2 separate regions of the Homo sapiens genome follow, and region 1 is linked to region 2. Evidence: fine-mapped expression QTL. A gene starts in region 2. The other region holds a variant in brackets. All regions are shown on one strand. Distances are from middle to middle. Region 1 holds the start of LOC105369656 (a long non-coding RNA gene). Region 2 holds the start of KLRD1 (killer cell lectin like receptor D1).

The links. PIP is the estimated chance that this variant, and not a neighbour inherited with it, causes the effect.
Region 1: its variant is fine-mapped to the expression of KLRD1 in whole blood (TOPMed, PIP 0.97).

The regions. Positions count from the first base shown.
Region 1 is chr12:10,282,671-10,291,919 of GRCh38, reverse strand. LOC105369656 (a long non-coding RNA gene) reads left to right here and starts at 676. Exons shown (of 2, transcript XR_931353.3): 1 at 676-782. It also overlaps a transcript of KLRD1 not described here. The variant G/A (reference allele first, on the strand shown) is at 5,757.
Region 2 is chr12:10,304,288-10,313,536 of GRCh38, reverse strand. It overlaps KLRD1 (killer cell lectin like receptor D1), which reads right to left and starts at 5,667. Exons shown (of 6, transcript NM_002262.5): 1 at 5,453-5,667; 2 at 4,057-4,149; 3 at 3,849-3,911; 4 at 1,922-2,073; 5 at 24-127. The coding sequence starts at 5,459.

The DNA of each region.
Region 1 (9,249 bases), 22 kb after region 2:
AAACTAATACAGGAACAGAAAACCAAACACCACATGTTCTCACTCACAAGTGGGAGTGGAAGAGTGAGAACACATGGACACAGGGAGGGGAACAACACATACCGCAGCCTATCAGAAGGTGGGGGGCAAGGGGAAGGAGAGCATTAGGACAAATACCTAATGCATGTAGGGCTTAAAACCTAGACGATGGGTTGATAGGTGTAGCAAACCACCATGGCACATGTATACCTATGTAACAAACCTGCACGTTCTGCTTGTGTATCCTGGAACTTAAAATAGTATAGGATTAAAAAAAAAAAAAAAAGATGTGGCTGAATTGATGCAATCTTGTGACAGAGCTTTCATGGGTGAGGAACTGCTTTTTATAGATGAGGAAAGAGACATTTCTTGGGATGGAATCTACTCCTGGTGAAGATGTTGTGAACATTGTTGAAATGACAACAAAGAATTTAGAATATTACAAAAAATGTAGTTGATAAAGCAGTGGCAGGGTCTGAAAGGATTGATTCCAATTTTGAAAGTTCTACTGTGGGTAAAATGCAATGAAACAGCATCATAGACTACAGAGAAATCTTTTGTGAAAAGAAGAGTCAGTCAATGCAGCAAACTTCATTGTTGTCTTATTTTTAGAAATTGCCACTGTCACCCCAGCCTTCAACAACCACCACCCTGATCAGTCAGCAGCCATCAATGAGGCAAGATCCACCAGAAACAGAAACAGACTAGGACTCTCTGAAAGCTCAGCTGATTGTTAACATTTTCTGGCAATATTTTTAATCAAGGTATGTACATTGTTTTTTAGATATAATAATTTTGAACACTTAATAGACTGCAGTACAGTGTAAACATTTACATGCATTGGGAAACAAAAAAAATTCATGTGACTTGCTTTATTGCAATAATTGCTTTTTTGTGGTTGTCTGGATCAGAGTGCACAGTATCTCTGAGGTATGCCTATATTTTACATAACTAGAGTACAATGTCAAAACCAGGAAATTGACATTGGTACAATCCATAGACCTTATTCAGATTTTAGTAGTTTTATATATCCATTCATTTGCTTGTGTGTATTTGTGTATATATATATATGTCATTTTATGCAGTTTTATCATGTGTAAATTCATGTAACCATCATCACATAACCTCTGATTTTATATTCCAGAAAATACTTGCCACCAATTATTTTGTTACTCTGCAGCATGGTTATTAAAGATAAATACTGAAACTTTTCCTTTATTTACCAATTTTCATTTTAATAAGTTTGTTTATTAGGGGAGAGTTGTGAACATTTATTGAGCACACATTACACGCCAATTCTAGTGCTTGACATGTATGTCTCATTTCAATGTGTGTGTGTTTGTGCGTGCATGTATCAGGCATTCTATTATGTCCAATGCTTTCTTTAATATAAATAAGATCACACAGATTTACCTAGCAATATGAAATCATTTTAAATTCTTTCTACCTCTGATTATTCTAAATTCCTTCTACCTCTGATTATTCCTAGAGTTAAAGATCCTAACATCATTTTAAATTAAATAGCCAGCTTCCTATTGGTCATTCTATCCATGGAACTTTTCTAAGAGTGGACTTTATAGGTCTTGCTCTGGCCTTTCCCAAGGAGTAGAGATGACCATTTCGTAGCTACAATCCAAGTAAGGAAATATTTGCCATGGTAGATGTTTGCTATGTTGACTTTCAGTTCTTATTCAACATACCATTTTAATTTACGTTGTCCAATGCCTTTGCAGTTATATTTTGGGCGTTGGAAACTGCCTTGTTGTTGTTCTTACAAATATGGTATCATTTTACAGTTTCAATTTTAACTAAAAATTACAAATTCAGCTGGATGGGGTGGCTCACGCCTGTAATCCCAGCACTTTGGGAGGCCGAGGTGGGCGGATCACCTGAGTCGGGAGTTCAAGACCAGCCTGACAAGCATGGAGAAACCCCATCTCTACTAAAAATACAAAACTAGCTGGGTGTGGTGGTGCATGCCTGTAATCCCAGCTACTCGGGAGGCTGAGGCAGGAGAATCGCTTGAACCTGGGAGGCGGAGGTTGCAGTGAGCCAAGACTGCACCACTGCACTCCAGCCTGGGCAACAAGAATGAAACTCTGTCACACACACAAAAAAAATTACAAATTCAATTATGGATATGGACCAGATACATTACACAAACATTTCCCCTTTTTGCATCTGTATCAAGTTAAAAGAATCCAGAAAACTGCTTCCCACTAAAAGAAATAAGCAAATAAACAAACCAAACCAAAGCAACTACCAATTCCACATGTGGTTCGGGAATAGGCAGACTCCGAAAGAAACAAAATAATGTTCAAGTTATGCATATAAGTAAATCTACACTGCCCAGTAGCTATTTACAAAGTGACATGTTTATGTAGTAAAAGAAGTGTGCAAATAGTGGTCACAGAATTAGCAACATACATTTTGAATAAAACATTGACAGTTTCCCTGATTGTTTAGCATAGAAAGAAGTTTATGAAGCCAGAATGGAGAAAACATAACTCGTTTCAAAATTTCTTAATTAGAGTCCTTAATGTGTATCTTTTCTAAATAATAGGTTAGTCCTTTATATAGGACCTAGCAAGGTGTAAGAACCTCATGAAAGAGCTGCAAAGAGCTCAGCTGCAGCTGCAGCTTGTCAACTCCTATGTGGCTGGAAACAAGTTTCTCTGTGGTGAACTGTTGGGTGGCCTTTAGGGTTCTCATTCTGAAATAACAAACCAAAGTCAACATATTGGTCACTTCCTAAATTCCAAAGCCCGCGTAATGTCACTAAGTGTCAGTGAAGTGGAACTGAGCCCCTGTCTTAGCCTTTAGGCAAAACTGTCTACATTGCAAAGCTCTATGGTCAGTATCTGCCGATGGAACTTGGGCATAAAGAAAAAGAGACACAGGAGGTAAAAGGATGCCCTAACTCAGAATAATAAGACACATAAATACTCAAACAGGAGATGAAGAATCAGATCAGTAAAACTCTATCAGACTAACCAACTCACCTTCTAACATTTTGTGACTAGACACTCATTTGGTACGCATTAAACACTTTATACATTCTCAAGTTCCAGTAGCCTGAAGTAAATCTTAAAAAAAGAGTCTTATAAAGGATTATTGCTAATATTTTATAATTTACCTCTAATTCTTTCATAGTGATGTATGTAGTCTATAATTGATATTTAATGATTATGTATAAAACCATTAAAAATTTTTGAGTTTACTTTATGCCAGGCTCTGTGTTTGATTATTTTATAACTTTTACTTCATCTAATCTTCATAAACCCTATGATATTGATAGTAATAGTTCTTAAATTTCATAGTTGAAGACACAGGAGATTATCAAGGAAACACGCTCAAAGTCAACCAAGCAGTGGTCAAGCTGAGTCTCACTAACCTTTGTCTACCTCTACCTCTAACGGATTAAAATCTAGAGAGTCATTTTGCATAACTGTAAGAAAATTATATTTTATTTTGCCTCGATTGTGCTGGGAATTTTTAGTTTTTGTTCAAATTTAGATAGATAAATTGCCACAGATATATTGAATGTAGGTTTATTATATAATAATTACAACATATTTACATAATGTATACATATGCATATATATGCATGCACACGTACTTGACTATGTACTGACTGATCTTTCTTTTTTTTTTTTTTTGAGACGGAGTCTCGCTCTGTTGTCCAGACTGGAGTGCAGTGGCGCAATATCGGCTCACTGTAACCTCCACCTCCTGGGTTCCAGCGATTCTCCTCCATCAGCCTCCTGAGTAGCTGGGATTACAGGCACGCACCACCATGCCTGGCTAATTTTTGTACTTTTTTTTTTTTTTTTTGAGACAGAGTCTCGCTCTGTCGCCCAGACTGGAGTGCAGTGGTGCGATCTCGGCTCACTGCAAGCTCTGCCTCCCAGGTTCACGCCATTCTCCTGCCTCAGCCTCCTGAGTAGCTGGGACTACAGGCGCCCGCCACCACGCCCGGCTAATTTTTTGTATTTTAGTAGAGACAGGGTTTCACCATGTTAGCCAGAATGGTCTCGATCTCCTGACCTCATGATCCGCCTGCCTCGGCCTCCCAAAGTGCTGGGATTACAGGCATGAGCCACTGCGCCTGGCCTGATCTTTCTTACAGAGGTAAAAATCCGTATTTAGACAGATAATTAAACTAAGTTATCCCCGTAGTTTTGTATAACCTAGGGGTGGTTTTTAAAGTCCTAGCAAATTTTTAGTTACATATTTTATTTCCTCGTTTCTCCATTTCATGCTTCTGTCTTCTAAGAAGCATAATTTAATTCGTAAAAGTATCTGTTTATATATAACAATATCTATTTATAGGTTTTATAATACTTCAGTATATAAATAATTCACTTGAAAAGGATGTTGGCACCAAAATGGATGGTCTTTTTTAAAACTTAGAATTTATTTGGATTTGTTTGAAGTTAGGTTTCATGGGAGGAAATGCTCTCATTATTTGTATAACATTTTTTTGCAACCTATCTGTGAGAGGTCTGAGTGTTAAATAAAAAAAAATTCGGAGTTATTTGTATATATGCATGTATTTGTGTATGAAACAAATACCAGCAAATACTTATTGACTATACCAATCTCATACATACCCTTGCATTCTCCCATGGCTGTCTAACTTCAAACCTGTGCCTTACAATGCATATCCATCTTTGCTTTTAGGTACAGTTTCACCACGGTTTTTAATCATCAAAAAAACACAAACAGATAAACAATAAAAAAAAAGAGGGTTTTGTTTTTGTTTTGAGACAGAGTCTCACTCTGTCACCCAGGCTGGAGTGCAGTGGTACAATCTCAGCTCACTGCAACCTCTGCCTCCCGGGTTCAAGCGATTCTCCTGCCTCAGCCTCCTGAGTAGCTGGGACTACAGGCGCACCACCACGCCCGTCTAATTGTTGTATTCTTAGTAGAAATGGGGTTTTGCCACATTGGCCAGGCTGGTCTCGAACTCATGACCTCAGGTGATCCCCCTGCCTCGCCTCCCAGAGTGCTGGGATTACAGGTGTGAGCCACTGCACCTGGTGCCCAGTGAGGTTCTTTATAAGAACAAAACTGAATGTAAACAGTTACGGGACCAGATGCGGTGGCTCATGCCTGTAATTCCAACACTTTGGGAGGCCAAGATGGGAGCATGACTTGATCTCAGGAGTTTGGGACCAGCCTGGGCAACAAAGTGAGATCCCGTCTCTATAAAAAAAAAAAAAAAAAAAAAAAAAAAGCACCATAAGCGAAATAAAATGATGATTCAAAGACTATTTTGCATTCAAAACTAATTTCTAATCAATCCTTATCAGGTAATTATTCTTTCTGCTTCTTCAATCTGCTAAATACAAGATGTCAAAAGTGAGTAGTTTCAAATGTTTGATTCTGCTTTTGGTAGATCGTAAACTTGAGTAGGTTACATAACCCCTTTAAGATTCTTTTCCATCATGTGTAAAACGTAAAATGCAACTAAATAGTTTATTGGAAATATGTTCTGAGAATGGTTTAATGTATAAACATATAGGGTATTTAACACCTAATTAGTGCTCAAAACCATTAAGAAACATATTGAGGTAGATAGGACATAAGCTATTCATTATTAGTTACAGTGAGTTTGCAGACTGAACTTTAAGCTTTCACGGAAATCTCCGGACTCTGATATGACCCTGGACCCCTGTGAGACCTCAGTCATCAGTACACTTTATGTGTAACAGGTGTGGCTGACACATCACACC[G/A]TATGGTACAGAATGTTTCCAACCACAGAGTTGCTGCTGCCTAAAATAACAGTTAACACCTACACTGGTCTTGGTGTGGCCGCAGGATGTTGGGGATAAAGTGGATGGGTAATGGGTAGAGGAAATGGCGTGTCTGGCGAAAACAGTAAGATGCTGTTGCAAACAATATTGGGAGTTGAAGCAATTTACCTGGGCAAAAAGCAGAAGACACAGCTTAAGGAGGAGAGAAGAGACCAGAACTGAGGTTTACAAGCATGGATGTGGCTGATCACTAGCACTGTAGCTGCGCTATTTTTGTTATTCCAGCAAGTGTAAACATAGGAAACATTACTAAACTTAGAGCTGTGACAATATTTACCTGTTAAGAGAAGAGGAGGGAATAGGAAAGAGTCAATCACAAAGAAAAAATAACATAAGAATCATAAAGCATTGACTGGACTGTAAATACTAGTCATATTTTCTATGAGATGATTTTTAACTGGAATTTTCTTCGGATAATGTGCTTAGAGATAGCGTGTTTTGTAGGTGGAAATAATGGGCAGGTAAAGACACACAAAAAAAACAACTTTAAGGTACCATGAAGAAAGATGTTAAATAAAACCATGTGAAAAATTATCCTGGTGACTATTGATACACAAAGGACTTATTTCATATTGGAAGCTTAAAGAAAGGAATGGTTTGTCCCTGAGTTATTTCAGAACCCTTATCATGACAGAATGGTGACTGTAACAGGAATTTTTCAGACTAGACATAAAGATGGTTCACATGAGAGGAAAAGAAAACTAGCATATGGCAAAAATAATTTCTAGAATAAACGTGACTTGACTGGCTGTGGTTTTACAGACTGTTTTTAAAAGAAGGAACCCATTTTTATCAGTCACACGACTCTCTACTTAAATTTCAATTTTAGCAACAACACAATCTAAAGGTAAGAATTTATTTTATAAATAGTAGTAAAGAATTTTGAAAATACAGAAATGATATTTTACTCCAGGTTAATATGCAACATTGCTAGCATGGTACACTGGCAACATCAGTAGAGCCAGATAATGAAGAGAAATCTCACAGGAATAGGGCATAGATTGTTCTTTTATATATAGTTCTCTCACCATACATCTAAAAACTTTTAAGTGGAAACTAAATGATGTGTAGGATACAGAGACCCTAATTTCTTTTTTTTTTGAGATGGAGTTTCGCTCTTGTTGCCCAGGCTGGAGTGCAATGGCACGATCTGGGCTCACCGCAACCTCCGCCTCCCAGGTTCAAGCAATTCTCCTGCCTCAGCCTCCTGAGTAGCTGGGATTACAGGCATGCACCACCATGCCCGGCTAATTTTGTATTTTTAGTAGAGACGGGATTTCTCCACGTTGAGGCTGGTCTCGAACTTCTGACCTCAGGTGATCTGCCCGCCTTGGCCTCCCAAAGTGCTGGGATTACAGGTGTGAGCCACTGTGCCTGGCCCAGAGACCCTAATTTCTTATCTGAAATTTGTGGAGAGAAATGTACTTTAAAATTTATTAGTTTTTATTTTAAAATATATGTGTTTATACATACATGAATTAACAGCCTCATTGGCATTTGATGATTCACGCTATAACCCAGCACATTAATATTTCCACAGCAAAATGTATAAAACAAAAACTATGATTAGCTAAGTTCAGGTTTTGGAACCAAACTAATGAAAACATTTTGTTTACAGAGATTTGGTTTTTAGCCTTATGGATAAAGAACTGGGGACTTATCTCCTGTGTCAGTATGTGGATTAAATTATACTCAATTCTTTGTTCAAAACACCTATTCCCCACTTACTGAGCCCCTCCACATGTGGTTTCATACTGATAATTTATCTGAGTGATTTTACACACATGTTATAGTAAACCTATGTATAGATTGGACAAGGTAAGTTGAATCTCTTCACAGAATATTGTGTTAACAAGTCTTTTGTTGTTGTTGTTGTTGTTGTTACTGTTGTTTTTTGAGAGAGAGTTTTACTCTTGTCACCCAGGCTGGAGTGCACTGGTGCGATCTGGGCTCACTGCAACCTCCACCTCCCAGTTCAGGTGATTCTCCTGCCTCAGCCTCCTGAGTAGCTGGGATTACAAGCGCCCACCACCATGCCCAGCTATTTTTTTTTTTTTTTTTGTATTTTTAATAGAGATGAGATTTCACCATGTTGGCCAGGCTGGTCTTGAACTCCTGACCTCAGGTGATCCGCCCACCTCGGCCTCCCAAAGTGTTGGGATTACAGGCATGAGCCACCATGCCCAGCCAACAAGTCTTACTTTTGATTGAGTATGAGAAGTATCTCTCCCAAAATATAATGGTTCTATGCATTGATAGATTTGGTTTCTTCCACTCTGTCAGTCACTTTTCTCTTTGTCCTCCCTGGTTTTCCCCTGTTCTGCTTGTTTCTTGGGGTGCTGATTCCTGCAACACATGTTTCACCACCTCCATGGCTAACCAGCTTCCAGGTAGGTGGAGTCAATGGAGCCACTGGGTTGAGATTTGGAAGGTAGGAAGAGGGGAGAAGCCTGTTATTTTGTCTTTCCCCTCTCTGCTTCAGGCTTTATCTCCTGCAGTGACCACACATGCTATGTACTGGTCTGTTTTATTTAATTTTAATATTTATTTTATTGTGATAGGAATACACCATGAGATCTACTCTATTAACAAATTTTGAAATGTACAATACAATATTGTTAAGTCTAGGCACAATGTTGTACAGCAGATCTCTAGAGCTTACTCATTTTGCATTACTAAAACCTTATCCCCACTCTCCGCTCCTCACTGTCCCTGGTAACCACTATTCTGCTCCTTGCTTCTATGAATTAGACTATTTTAGATGCCTCATACAAATGGAATCGTGTTTTTGTCCTTCCCTCATGCTATGTTGTTTGAACTGCTGCCAAATAGCAACTGCCTCGTGGCAGGCACCAGCCACTGTGGTGCCAGTCCCCATCAAGTGGTTCTGGTAAACCCACCTGCTCCCTTGTTTCCTCTAGCTCTGGGAATAGTACCAGCTTTCTGTTTTGCCCATATCTGAATTGTCTTCTTTCTCCTGACGGACTCTTAGATTTCTCCAACTGTTTGATAAATACCCTCCTCTGTTAACTTCCCTCTATGTAATGACTTGGCACAGAATTTGTTTTCCTGCCTGGACATTCACGAATACATCAACCTACCTTGAATAATATCTACTACACTCTTGTTTCCCTGACAATTTCTCTGTCTTTATTTCTACCTATTTCTGCTCAGTCCCTCCCTCTGATCTAGCCCCAATGCTACTTCTCAAACAAACCATTCAGTCTTAGGTTGTAGAGACTGTCCACTATTTGAACAGTTCCTTGCTCAAATATTTTAGAGACTCTCTACGTCAAACGTCGCTCATTTGACATTACTCAAATGACACCTCCTTTGGAATGCCTTCCTTGAACACATCTTCTAACTTTGTACCCACATCATTATGTATGCTCTACAATATTTCTTACAAAAG
Region 2 (9,249 bases):
CGCCATGATTGCCAGAAACTTACAGATACTGGGAGAGTGCAGAGCCATTCTCCCACAACCAGGCGGTGTGCTCCTCACTGTAAGAGAGTCCAATCCAGTAAAATTGTTGACTGGAGCTCATAAAATCCTGCTTCAAGTAAAAGACAATCACATTAATCTAATTTTAATCTATTCTGGGAATAACATATTTTGAGGGAAAGTCAGTGTTTAGAATAAGATTCAGCCTGTCCATCACACAAACGGAAATTATTTTTAACTTCCTATTTAAAAGGTATAATCACAAGACTGAAAGTTCTCATTTATCAGGCCCATTCATATATGGAGAAAAAATACCACAAAATCTCACTTCCTGAAGAATTAAAAACCTTCTAAAAGGAGATAGAGTTTTCATGGAACACTTTCTTCACGGGGGATCAAAGATTAAATTTGATTCCAAAATCATGGTATTGTGAAGGAGGAATCCCATGGGTATAATCTACTCAACCTATAATCCGCAAAGGTGCCACGTGCAGCAGGAGAAGTTTTTCGCTTTTTCTTTTTTCTTTTTGTTGAGAGGGAGTCTTGCTCTGTCGCCCAGGCTGGAGTGCAGTGGGACGATCTCAGCTCACTGCAAGCTCTGCCTCCCAGGTTCACGCCATTCTCCTGCCTCCGCCTCCCGAGTAGCTGGGACTACAGGCGCCCGCCACCACGCCCGGCTAATTTTTTGTATTTTTAGTAGAGACGTGGTTTCACCGTGTTAGCCAGGATGGTCTCGATCTCCTGACTGTGATCCGCCCTCCTCGGCCTCCCAAAGTGCTGGGATTACAGGTTTCAGCCACTGCGCCCGGCCGCACTTTTTCTTAAGAACTGGGTAATTAGGGGCCGGGCACGGTGGCTCACGCCTGTAATCCCAGCACTTTGGGAGGCAGAGGTGGGCAGATCATGAGGTCAGAAGATCGAGACCATCCTGGCTAACACGGTGAAACCGCGTCTCTACTAAAAATACACAAAATTAACTGGGCGTGGTTGTGGGCGCCTGTAGTCCCAGCTACTCGGGAGGCTGAGGCAGGAGAATGGCGTGAACCCGGGAGGAGGAGCTTGCAGTGAGCCAAGATCACGCCACTGCACTCCAGCCTGGGCGACAGAGCGAGACTCCATCTCAAACAAACAAACAAACAAACAAACAAAAAAGAATTGGGTAATTAGGGCCAGGCACGGTGGCTCATGCCTGTAATCCTAGCACTTTGGGAGGCCAAGGAGGGTAGATCACCCGAGGTCAGGAGTTCAAGACCAGCCTCGCCAATACGGTGAAACCCTGTCTCTACTAAAAATACAAAAAGTGCCAGGCCTGGTGGCAGGTGTCTGTAATCCCAGCTACTCAGGAGGCTGAGGCAGGAGAATCACTTGAACCCAGGAGGTGGAGGCTGCAGTGAGCTGAAATTGCACCAGTGCACTCCAGCCTGGGCAACAGAGTAAAACTCTGTCTCAAAAAAAAAAAAAAAAAAAGAAAAGAAAAGAATTGGGTACGTTTTCTTACCATATTTCCATACTAGCTTATATCCCAGAAAGATGACAAAAACTATAAAATTATAAAAGATATTATAAATTCAATTAAAAGAGTTAAGAATCACAGTCATTTAGTTGGTTCTTCAAATAAAATGGGTAAATATAATGACCTATTATCTTCTTTGAATTCTTCCTGAAAAGTTTCTTTCACTTTATTTGGCACCTATCTTGATTTGTATTCCCATGATATAATCATTAAGGAATTTAATAAAGATTTTACAATGACTACTTTAAGGTACACAGAACAGATAACTCAATTCCAATATAACCATCCACTTACTATGTGATTAATGACTTAAACCAAAGTATTTAACTTGTTTAGATAGTATATTTTTCTAGATCAAAGAAAATGTAGAAAATCAGACTCAGCACATGCCAGTTCATCTGTGTTTTGAAGCTGAAGCAGGCTGGATTTCTGAGAAGCACAGAGATGCCGACTTTCGTTCCAAGTTTTCTGTTCACTGGAAATGAAGTAACAGTTGCACCGGTACCCAACCCATTTTTCTTGGCAAGAACAGCAGTCAGAGTCTGACAGAAAACATAAAGCATGACTAATGACACTGGAGACTAGACATTTTTTTCAATGCTATTTAATTATTCAAAAATTATTTGCTGTGTATTCTTTTAACATTCAGAATCTACTGTATACACCACACTTCAGGGGCTACTAATGTGAACTAATTAGACATGAACATGATGCTTTTTCCTCATGGAGATTATATTCTAGAGATAGAATTACAATTATATAATTTTCAATAATTTATTAACGATATTTAGTGATGATTTAGATAAGTACAAAAAAATTAAGTATGTTAAAACAGCATGTAGCAGAGTGTAAGATGAGGGGCAGTTACAAGAACCTTTTTTTGAGGAAGTGACTCAAAACTAAGTACTGTAGCATAAATAGGAGTTAACTAGATGAAAAAGATTTAAAGGAGGAAAACATTTTAGCATACTTTCTGAGTCAGAAAAGAATATGGTACATTTGGAGAATTTTGATATATGTTTGGATATCTTATTTTTGAAAAGGGAATATAAATAAACCAATTATCTTGAGGCTTAATTATACAGTTTATCAATAATAGTGTCTTCAACGTTTGTTACCCACGGTAATAAAAACATGACACGTCATAGGCACTCAAATCTTTGCCATATAAGTAGTGCTGAAGATGTTGCACTATTATTTTTATATTTTTTAATTGTTTTTGAGACAGAGTCTTGCTGTGTTGCCCAGGCTGGAGTGCAGTGGCACCATCTCAGCTCCCTTCAACCTCCGCCTCCCAGGTTCAAGTGATTCTCATGCCTCAGCCTCCTGAGTAACTGATACTACAGGTGCGTGCCGCCATGCCTGGCTAATTTTTGTATTTTTAGTACAGACGGGGTTGGCCTGTCTTGAACTTCTGACCTCAAGTAATATGCCTACCTCAGCCTCCCAAAGAGCTGGGATTACAGACGTGAGCCACTGTGCCTGGCCAAGATGTTGCACTGTAAATAAACACTATATAATCAAGATGATGGTGAGACAACTTGGGGCGCATTCCGAAAAATACATATTTAGAAAATTGAGGCCGGGCGCAGTGGCTCTGCTGGGTACGGCATAATCCCAACACTTTGGAAGCCGAGGCAGGTGGATGACCTGAGGTCAGGAGTTCGAGACCAGCCTGGCCAACATGGCGAAACCCTGACTCTACTAATAACACAAAAATTAGCTGGGCATGGTGGCGGGCGCCTGTAGTCCCAGCTACTTGGGAGGCTGAGGCAGGAAGGTGGGAGAATCACTTGAACCAGGGAGGCTGATGTGGCAGTGAGCCAAGATCGTGCCACTGCACTCCAGCCTGGACGACAAGAGCAAAACTCCATCTCCAAAAACGAAAATTGGACTTTGAGCTGGCTTTCACTGGATAAGTAAGGTTTAGAAATCTGTGCAGTATATTCTGGAAAAGGAAAAGTAGTGAGATGCAAAAGTATAGGTTATAAGCAAATTCAGGCAGGTAATGAGGATTAACTGTAACATTTCCTGTGGTTTATTTTTTGTTACTTAATTATGAGCACTCATATAGGAAACATATCTTTCGTTTCAGGCTACTATTTTCCTGATTAGTTAAATGTACAAATGATACACATTCAGTGTAATTTAATCATTTTTACATTAGATTGAGCAATGTAAAATGAGACTATCCTACACTGGTAGGCAAATTTCTATTACTAAGTATAATATTCCATCATGCCTCTCTGTGTGAAAAACAAGAAACTGCCTATTTAATCTTTTACCAATGCTAAGTTTTCCAAAAAATGTGACCTACCTTTCTGGAGTTCTATGTTGGGTCCTGGAGTAAATGCTGGCTCAATACTCAGTTTAGTAAAAGCTATAAGAAATGATTAGAAATTTGTTTAATTAGGTATGGGTTTATGAAATACTAAAATATTACACATTAGCAAGATGAAGCCTTTATTATTAAATGATGTCTTCACAGTTTTGATTTTTATGGAGACTTGCTTAGAAAAACTTACAATTTTTCAACAAAATTCCCAACGTAGACATCAACGAAAGGCATATTATCCCTAAGGTCCCAGAAATTAACCTCCACAGAGTGGTCTTAAACACTGTAGAGAAAGACAGACAGAGTAATGACTTAAAGAGCAAACTCAGGAGCTGAGTTCTTAAAAGCAGAAACTAGTGACGGAGAATCCACAACATTCTTTCATTTGATAACGGAGTCATCTTGCCAATAAAACACTGAAGACTTTCCAATCGGGACTTCACCCAATACCAACATTTTTATGTGATGTATCTTATTCTTCAGGAAGATTATTCAAACATTTTCTTCTCTACCAGCTCTGTTGCAGTAAAGTGAATTTACCATTTATTTTAAATTGGCAGAGGTGCTTAAAGATCTGGAGGTAGAAGATATTAACAAGCACCACGTTGTGTTTTATGGACTTACATAACAGGCATTTATTTTTATTCTCTCAACAAAATCACAAGATAGATAGTATGGTTCTCATTACATAGATGAGAAAACATAAGGTCCAATAATAATGTTATTTTCTCAAGGTATCAAAGCAAGTAAGTATCCAAGTCAGAAATCACATGAAAGTGTGTCTAGCTCAAGAATCTTTCATTCAACGTAGTCTACCATTGTCACAATAATACTAGTTGAGAGTATGCCCTCTCCTCATCTCAGTGCAGGTTTTGCTCTGATAAATGTCTAGCTGCTCATTGGTTCGTAGAGATATTATAGGGAAAAGAAGACATAGGAACATTCTGGACTTGGTGTGATAACTGATAACAAATTGATGGGTAACAACTTTGAGGCCTGGCTTCATTTCACAGTATATTGAACATACATAAACAATCCTTTTTCCCCTAGAACATTCCATTTGTTCATACTCAAAATTACTTGCTTTTAGGCCTTTCACCTAAAACATTTCAACATTAGGAGATTCTGTGCTAACGTGAACACACTCTCAAAGAGTGATGTCATTAACAACAGTACAATGTGTCAAACTGTTCATTTGTGTAATTTTTGGATGTCACAACATAAATAGTCAATTAAAACCTTTTCAGCATTGTGTCATTAATATTTGGCATTTTCTATTGCTATACTAGAACACTGTTGCTCACAATTTAACCAGGCTAAAGTTCAGTTCTCACTCAGAATTTAAAGGTAGCCCTGTCAGAAACCACTCTTCAAACCTGTGGAAAAAACTTCATGAAATCATGTCTAAGTTATACAATGAAGAATCAGGAAAATATAATGAATGTGGAAAGTGCTAATGCATGAAAATCCTAAAAACATCCACTGTTAATCATGTCCTTTTCTCTTAAAGCATTACCCCAAAATCAGCCAATCCAAGAAATAGCTTTTCTGGTTATTTTTAATTTAGTGACTGAAATCACACATACCTGCCATGAGAAATTATGTTCCAAGAGCGAAGTAGAGAAGGCACGATGTGTACTTTTTCAGAAAGAACAGCGTTGAATTGTTGAAGCTGAGCTGGAGATTAAAGAATCTGAAAGTTGAGTATGAAGAAATTTAGCAAAAATAGAGAATGAAAAATTGTGTATTTAAATGATGTTCTTGAATCATCTATTGGTGAGACATGTATTATAGTGTGAATAAGAAGCAGTAGAATCACAAGCCTCTGAAGTGTTCCAGGAACCACAATACAGGAAATTCTCACAGTACTTTTGCAATATTAACACTTTGGCAAGGACTAAAGAAGGTGAGAGGAGGTCAGAGGGAGTTTTGTTGCTGTTTTGTTTTTTATTGTTTGAAAATCAAATTCATTTTAAAGGGTTATCTGGAAAATGAAGGAAATGATGGGCAAACCAAAGGTAAATTTACTTAGCATAACAAAATTACTTACAGAATTTTCCTCTTTTAATAATAAACATTTATTATTTACCTTGTACTTAACACAATTTAAAGCACTTGGCATATCTTAGCTCATTTATTTCTGTAAATGGCTTGATAGTAAAGATATATAAATATCTTCAATCTATCAAAGAGAAAACTGAGGCATACAGAGCTAAGTAATTTGCCCAAGGTCACATAAATTGGGATTTCCATGTCTCACTCTGTTCTTCTGATCTCTACCTAATTATCCTGGCCACGACAGGCAAAGTTCAAAAAAGTAGAACTGGATGGGTTTCCCACTTGGACGCCTCATTCACGTTAGCCTTAAAAGCTTTTTTCAACACCTCAATTTTCATTTTCTTAAAGTTCTTTAAGCACGACTTCAGCTTCTTTATTTTCCTTATTTTTACTAATACATTATTATATTGTTTAGTGTGTTATCTAATTCAGATACTATACTGATACTTCGATATACACTTTTTCATCTACAGAAGAGTAACCTTGTTAATAGGAATATCAAATGTGGAACAGGTCAAATTTCCAATGTGGAAGAGATTGGCTATAATAAGAATCTTGAAAGGAGAGATTTCGATCCATGATTTAGTATCTGGAAATACAATCTACCATGCACCCCCATACAAAAGCAGACACTCAAATAAACGTTTTGTGTATTATATTTTGTATATTGTTTATGTTCAAGCATTATAATATTACTATAGATAAACCCTTTTGTAAAAGATGGGCTTTCAACCAACAACAGAAAAAAATGAAAGAAAAGACTACTTTGACTTCTCAGTTTTTATGAAGTCAAAACTTTCCATCTTTTCAGTTTGCATTGTGTGCCTAGAGCTGCTTTCATTGCACCAACAAATTTGTTGAGCTATAAATCCTCACTGAAGAATATAAGCGTAAAATCTACTTCATCCAGACTGTATGCAAATCTTAGTTGAAGTGATTTATTTAAAAATCCTTTGCTTACTTGAAATCTATTCATTTTTAGTGTTAGAAAAAGCTGGTCTGGAAGAAACCTGTCTGATACTATTTTTCCCCCATGTAAAATTGCCTCAAAATATAGGAGATTAGGGGTTTGCTTTTAGTTTTTCTCTTGAGAGAGTACAAATTTATGACAGAATGTGCAATAGGGATTATTACTACACTTTCATTACTAACACAACCACCTTTATTTGGAAGTTAGAGGTTCTAAGTTTTTAGAACCCTGTTTGGTGAGAATACGTCCATCAGTCATTGTCCTTTTTTTCATCTTAGTTCACTGACTTAGAAATAAAAATCCAACAAATACAAGTTTACTTCAAGAACTCCAGGCTTAAATATTTAAGATACCTAAACACACACACACACACACACATACACACACACAGTAAACATATATGTATATACCTCTTTAACTCTTTCTGAGCTGCCAACTCTGATTGTTCTTTTTTTGTTTGTTTTTGTTTGTTTGTTTTTTGAGATGGAGTCTCTGTCACCCAGGCTGGAGTGCAGTGGCTCACTCGGCTCACTGCAAGCTCCGCCTCCCGTGTTCACGCCATTCTCCTGCCTCGGCCTACCGAGTAGCTGGGGCTACAGGCTCCCGCCACCACGCCCAGCTAATTTTTTGTATTTTTTTTTTTTAGTAGAGACGGGGTTTCACCGTGTTAGCCAGGATTGTCTCGATCTCCTGACCTCGTGATCCGCCCGCCTCGGCCTCCCAAAGTGCTGGGATTACAGGCGTGAGCCACCGTGCCCGGCCTCTGTTCTTTCTATTTATTTTTGTACGTAGACAGGTGAATGATTTCCATGTACTGTATCTCTCCCACTCATCTCCACTTGTTCCTGAAGTTATCATTGCCTCGCCTATGTCCCTTGGAATATTTGGGGAACTATGGCCAACTAGTTATCTGTATAGCTGTATCTATGGGTTCTTTTTTTCTCCAATAACTGCTGAAAGCCTTGCTGTTCTCAGACATGCTAATCCGGAAGTGCTGAATAATCATCACCAGAATGGGCGTCAACAAACGAATCTTGTGATTTGCTATACAGTCCAGCAGTCTCAGCCCTAAAGTCAGGTAATTCTGAACATTGTGTTTTGCCCAGTTCCCAGAATTACTCAATAGTGTTATGTTCCAGTCACCTCCTCTAGAAGCTAGATTAAGAAAATAACCTTTATTGCGTTCCACTTTCCCTTTCCTATTACATTTCCTTTCCTACATTTATTGCATACACAATTCCAAATAAAGTTTCTACTCAAAGTATTCTCTGAGTGTGCTGCCGAGAGAAACCAGACTAAATTCCGCTGAAATATCCAGCTTCACTTACATAAATTTGCTTTTGAAAAGTTAGGTATCCTGCCAAAAGAACGTCTCTCTTTGCAGGACTTTCCATCCCCTAGTATCCATTGCAGGAAGATGCCCTCTTCCTCCCCTGCAATTTACTAGTGCCCTTGGTAAGAGCAAGTGATGACTTCAATAGCTAAGTCAACTTTTAAACCTTAGTCAAAAGCCAGGGAAAAGAAACTAATGTTCACTTAACATATAAACAGTGAAGTCTTTTCCCTACCTAAAAATGTATAACTAAAATGTTGCAGAACAAAATAACAGTATACGTTCTAGTATCCCCAAGGGAAAAATTTATTTTGATCTCACTGCTTTTAGAAAATGCATTCTTTGAGCGGAAAGAAAATTGCTCACATCAGGCTGCAAATTATTCTTTTAACAGAGAGAGAGGGCTCCCTGAGAAAAAACAAAAGACGTTACTGACCTGGTAAAATCTCATTGTAAACATGCTAATAACAAACCTACTAGCTATAGTGGTTTCTTATATATAGTGTGTTTTGCTTGCAAAATCCTTATCAATGGAATGATTTTAGCAGGATGTATTAGATTGTCTAAAATTGTTAGTGGTAAAATCAAATAAAAAAATAAAACTAAGGCTGGGCATAGTGGCTCACGCCTGTAATCTCAGCTCTTTTGGAGGCCAAGGCAGGTGGATCACCTGAGGTCAGGAGTTCAAGGCCAGCCTGGCCAACATGGAGAAACCCTGTCTCTACTAAAAATACAAAATTAGTCGGGCATGGTGGCACTCACCTGTAACCCCTGCTACTTGGGAGGCTGAGGCATTAGAGTCTCTTGAACTTGATGAGCTGAGATCGCACCATTGCACTCCAGCCTGGGTGACAAGAGCAAAACACACTATATAAAAAAAAAGCATAAAACTAGAATCTGTGGGTTTATGGAGGCTGGCTTCCTGGAAAAATGTCACATAAGCTATGTGTAACCATAACCATGTAACCATCTGAGTATAAAATGGAGATGTGTCATAACCAAAACATCTCCTTTTGTGTAAA